Regions from separate parts of the Homo sapiens genome. Here region 2 is linked to region 1. The links come from fine-mapping of genetic effects on gene expression. A gene starts in region 1. The other region holds a variant in brackets. All regions are shown on one strand. Distances are between the middles of the regions.

What was found. PIP is the estimated chance that this variant, and not a neighbour inherited with it, causes the effect.
Region 2: its variant is fine-mapped to the expression of MANF in whole blood (TOPMed, PIP above 0.99).

The regions. Positions count from the first base shown.
Region 1 is chr3:51,383,712-51,386,625 of GRCh38, forward strand. It overlaps MANF (mesencephalic astrocyte derived neurotrophic factor), which reads left to right and starts at 1,580. Exons shown (of 4, transcript NM_006010.6): 1 at 1,580-1,725; 2 at 2,497-2,624. The coding sequence starts at 1,632. DOCK3 (dedicator of cytokinesis 3) reads left to right here. Exons shown (of 53, transcript NM_004947.5): 53 at 1-487. RefSeq lists an enhancer at 996-1,345 and a silencer at 1,406-1,775.
Region 2 is chr3:51,203,527-51,206,440 of GRCh38, forward strand. The region is part of intron 12 of DOCK3 (dedicator of cytokinesis 3); the gene reads left to right. Among named protein-coding and RNA genes, the nearest start is that of MANF, 180 kb to the right of the region's middle. The variant G/A (reference allele first, on the strand shown) is at 1,407.

The DNA of each region.
Region 1 (2,914 bases):
GAGGGGAAATGGGAGGCCAGAGATGAGAACCCTTTGAAAAGATTGTAAAATACTGATTTTCATTCTTTCAAGCTTATTTGTAAATACCTATTTGAATGCTGTGTATTTGTACAGGAATTTGAGCAAAAAATGTATAGAGTGTGATGTCCAATTGGTATTCAGCACTATAAATGTGTTTTTAACCTCCCGCATTCTGTGCTTATTTAAAACAAGGAAACTTCTAACCATTTCTTTTGTGTATTCATGTTTAAAGAAAAAAAGTGATTTAAAAATGATCTTACCTGTACCAGAAAAGCAAAGTTAAAGGAAACAAAATTTGTACCATTGTCCCAAGAGGTATTTTACTGTATATATTGTGGTAGCATGTTCAAAATCCAACAAGTAATGTGAATTTTAGATGTAAATATCTGCCACTTGATTTTTTTTCCCCCTTTCCCCACTTCCTTGACTGCTGTGATGTGAATTAAAGATAAATACGTGATACTGATCCACTGAATTCACTGAATGGGAGCAGAGGATGTGCCCCTCTCCAACCCTTGTCGCCGGGCTCCAAGCCCTTTTTAGCCCTATAGACATGTCCTTTTTGCACTGAGTAGAGCCAACGGTTCCCGCATCCTGCCTTGAAGGCAGGCAGCCAGGAGGGCACTTGAAAGGAGGGCAGTCGAAAAGGAAACATCCTCCAGTGCTTCTCTGGTGATTCCCGGGACCCCACTCAGGAGGTCCCACGGCAGCGGGGGACCCCGAGGGCCTAGCCGGGGAGGCAGGAGGAGGCTGGCCAGCCACCAAGCCACGATTCAGAGCTTGTAAGGGCACCTCCCGAGCCCCTCACCTTCCCACTCTGAGGCGACCCCATGTCCTCGACCGATGATCTGGCCCGGGCGCTTCCCTCCACGGTCTAGAGTGGCGGCCCAGCTTTGAGCTTGGCGCGCCTTGAGCCCTTCCTTCAGATGTCCCGCAGTCCGTCCACCCCGCACGTCTCCTATCAGCCTATGCACGGCGGGCTCCGGTCAGGTGGAGGATCAGCAGGTGGGCTTTCAAAGGTTGGATCCGTTGCCCACGCGAATGAAAGAAGAAAAAAGAAACCTCTTTGAGCCTTGCCTGCGGCCGCCCGCCCTTCCTGCCTAACCTGTTGTCTTGGCTGACCCCAGAACTCCTGCACCACGAGTCGGAGTCCGGGCGAGGAGATCAGCAGGGGTTTTCGAGGGAGCCTGGGGCCCAGGGCAGGGGTACGCGGGTCAACTCAACAGATGTAAGGCGTGGCCGAACCCCATTCAGCTAGCAGTACCCAGCCTCAGCCACAGTCGCTGCCCTTACCCAAGATGGCGGCCCACACCGCTTCCGTCGCTGCTGTAGTCGCTTCCTGCGGCCAGCCCGGGTTCAATCAGCGGCCGACAACTGTCTAGGGCTCAGACACCACCAGCCAATGAGGGAGGGCAGCGTGGAGCCGCCCGTCTGGGCTCGCGGCTCCTGGACCAATGGGGAAGTGGCATGTGGGAGGGCGCCGGGGGGCCCCCCGCCAATGGGGAGCTACGGCGCGCGGCCGGGACTTGGAGGCGGTGCGGCGCGGCGGGTGCGGTTCAGTCGGTCGGCGGCGGCAGCGGAGGAGGAGGAGGAGGAGGAGGATGAGGAGGATGAGGAGGATGTGGGCCACGCAGGGGCTGGCGGTGGCGCTGGCTCTGAGCGTGCTGCCGGGCAGCCGGGCGCTGCGGCCGGGCGACTGCGAAGGTGCGGGATAGGGGGCCGGGGGCCGCGCTCCGTGACCGTTCTGGCGGCGGCGCTGAACCCCACAACATCACCAGACGGCCGGGGCCAAGAGGGCGAGGGCGGGGGCGGGGGCGGGGGCGACAGCAGGTCCCCGCGGGGCCTGCATGAGGAGGCTCCGGCGCCCGCCCTAGTAAATCTTTCTTGGGCCTAGAAAACATTGGTCCGACGAAGAAAAGTTGAGACTAGATCCCGTTGAAAACTTGTCCTGAAATCTCCATCACTCCTGAGTTATTGTCCCCACCACCATCTAGAGGTTACCGCTCCCCGTTCGGCGTCGGGAGCTCCAGGGCTGGCCGTGGGTGCTGCGCCCTGTCTGTTGGGATCACGAAGCTGCACCTCTGGGTCCGCTGTTGTATTTGGAAATTAGCAGCAGCATTTTGATCATTTTTCTCTTCACCTTCCAGTCTCTCCATTTATGAGGTCACAGTGAGTCCCGTCTCAAGGACACGTGTTCACCATGGGCTTAAACTTGATGAAAGGAGCAGGGAGAAGTCGTTTATAGGTCATTGGGTGATGCTTGGTCCTTTGATGCCCTGGGTGTACCAGGGGACCCCCGCCACTTGGAACCGGGTTCTGTCTACCTGTAGACACCTGAGAAAAATCGGTGATGGAAAAGCTCACCTCTAATGATTCATCTCCGTGTCTCCTATTAAAATTGCTGGCGGAGTTCTTTTCTGGTGGATTGGAACAGCTTGGTGATTGCTGAGCATCTCCCGTCCCTCTCTTTTCCAGTTTGTATTTCTTATCTGGGAAGATTTTACCAGGACCTCAAAGACAGAGATGTCACATTCTCACCAGCCACTATTGAAAACGAACTTATAAAGTTCTGCCGGGAAGCAAGAGGCAAAGAGAATCGGTTGGTAAGTAGCTGGTGATCCTCCCCAACTGGCCCTGGCTCATGTTAACCCTCGGCTTCACCAGCCGTTTGATAAAAGGCCTTGCCCACCTCTCTGTTCAGGAAGCCAGCTACTCTCTCCATAAACTAATGTGAGAAGACTGAAGTGCTTCTATGTCCTTCCCAAAGCAGCATGTGTTCTGCAACTGTGATTTTTTTTTATCCTGTTAGTCTTTATTAAGCACCTACTATGTGCTAGGCACTGGGAATATCAGGGGAAAGAAGTGACAGTCGGACACACAAATAATGCAATGT
Region 2 (2,914 bases), 180 kb before region 1:
ATGGAAGAACATTCCATGCTCATGGATAGGAAGAATCAATACTGTGAAAATGGCCATACTGCCCAAGGTAATTTATAGATTCAATGCCATCCCCATCAAGCTACCAATGACTTTCTTCACAGAATTGGAAAAAACTACTTTAAAGTTCATATAGAACCAAAAAAGAGCCTGCATTGCCAAGTCAATCCTAAGCCAAAAGAACAAAGCTGGAGGCATCACGCTACCTGACTTCAAATTATACTACAAGGCTACAGTAACCAAAACAGCATGGTACTGGTACCAAAACAGAGATATAGATCAATGGAACAGAACAGAGCCCTCAGAAATAACTCCGCGTATCTACAACTATCTGATCTTTGACAAACCTGACAAAAACAAGCAATGGGGAAAGGATTCCCTATTTAATAAATGGTGCTGGGAAAATTGGCTAGCAATATGTAGAAAGCTGAAACTGGATCCCTTCCTTACACCTTATACAAAAATCAATTCAAGATGGATTAAAGACTTAAACGTTAGACCTAAAACCATAAAAACCCTAGAAGAAAACCTAGGCATTACCATTCAGGACATAGGCATGGGCAAGGACTTCATGTCTAAAACACCAAAAGCAATGGCAACAAAAGCCAAAATTGACAAATGGGATCTAATTAAACTAAAGAGCTTCTGCACAGCAAAAGAAACTACCATCAGAGTGAACAGGCAACCCACAAAATGGGAGAAAATTTTCACAACCTACTCATCTGACAAAGGGCTAATATCCAGAATCTACAATGAACTCAAACAAATTTACAAGAAAAAAACAAACAACCCCATCAAAAAGTGGGCGAAGGATATGAACAGACACTTCTCAAAAGAAGACATTTATGCAGCCAAAAAACACATGAAAAAATGCTCACCATCACTGGCCATCAGAGAAATGCAAATCAAAACCACAATGAGATATCATCTCACACCAGTTAGAATGGCAATCATTAAAAAGTCAGGAAACAACAGGTGCTGGAGAGGATGTGGAGAAATAGGAATACTTTTACACTGTTGGTGGGACTGTAAACTAGTTCAACCATTGTGGAAGTCAGTGTGGCGATTCCTCAGGGATCTAGAACTAGAAATACCATTTGACCCAGCCATCCCATTACTGGGTATATACCCAAAGGACTATAAATCATGCTGCTATAAAGACACATGCACATGTATGTTTATTGCGGCACTATTCACAATAGCAAAGACTTGGAACCAACCCAAATGTACAACAATGATAGACTGGATTAAGAAAATGTGGCACATATACACCATGGAATACTATGCAGCCATAAAAAAGGATGAGTTCATGTCCTTTGTAGGGACATGGATGAAATTGGAAATCATCATTCTCAGTAAACTATCGCAAGAACAAAAAACCAAACACC[G/A]CATGTTCTCACTCATAGGTGGGAATTGAACAATGGGAACACATGGACACAGGACGGGGAACATCACACTCTGGGGACTGTTGTGGGGTGGGGGTAGGGGGGAGGGATAGCATTGGGAGATATACCTAATGCTGGATGACGAGTTAGTGGGTGCAGCGCACCAGCATGTCACATGTATACATATGTAACTTACCTGCACATTGTGCACATGTACGCTAAAACTTAAAGTATAATAATAAAAATAAATAAATAAATAAATACAGTGAAAAAAAAAGAAAAAGAAGGTCCACATCTATCACCACAGTATGAGGTTTAAGGATTTAGAAAGCACTTTTACCTAAATATGCCTTTAATAACTACATCAGGTATAACACGAGGATGCTGCTAAAAGAATGGAAGAGTAAGATAGAGAGGCATGAAATGATGAAGACTTTGATGGGGTTAGGACTAAAGAGAATAATTTTAAAAACTGAACAATTGGCCCAGGTGTGGTGGCTCATGACTGTGATCTTAGCACTTTGAGGGCTAAGGCGGGAGGATCGCTTGAGTTCAGGAGTTCGAGACCAGCCTGGGCAACATGGTGAAACCTTATCTCTACAAAAAAAAAAAAAAGACAAAAATTAGCTCGGCATGGTGGTGTGTGCCTGTGGTCCCAGGTGCTCTGGAGACTGAGGTAGGGGGATCACCTGAGCCTGGGGAGGTGAAGGCTGCAGTGACCAGTGATTGTACCGCTACACTCCAGCCTGGGCGACAGTGAGACCCTGTATAGATCAGTTAATAGATAGATAGAAAGAAAGAATTCATTGTTAACAGCATATAGTATTTGAAAGCAAGTGCTGTATTAAGAGAATAAAAGGAAGCATTGGTAATTGAAGGTAAATTGATGCCTTTGTAACAATAACTTGGCAGTTCTGCAAAGCTAAATGTTTTTTATAGCCAGTCATGAGTAGACTGCAAAATTTCGAGAGTTCAGTCTTGGCAATCTGCAAATGAATCTGCATGACATTTGATTTCAAACAATCTTTCCTTTGAAGCTACCAGGAGTTTCTTTCAAGCATACTTCCAGCCATTGGTGCTCCCATCCTCCTTGACTCAAATAGGCACAAATATGACCATTCATTTTTCCTTTACTTTCCCCAGAAATGTGATTGTTTTCACTGCTCTTTTACTGTTTTCCTCTTAAGATAAATCTAGTAATGATTTCATAAGATGACCATAATGCAGAATGTTTTCCTCAATATCTGCCTTAGTGTAATGTAATTCTGATGCAGAATGATGGCAAAGTTTTAATTAGCAACATTTAAGCTATAAGAAATAACCAATTGACCTTGGCAATTATTCCATTTATTTGTTCAACAAATATTATATTAAGCACTTATTATGTGCTACAAGTTTTGCTACATGGTGGAGATGATTAGCAAGACACAGTCCTTATCATCTAAGGACTTGCAGTCGAGTGAAGTGACAAATAGGTGCCCTAAAATATAATAGGTATTCTTCTAGAAATC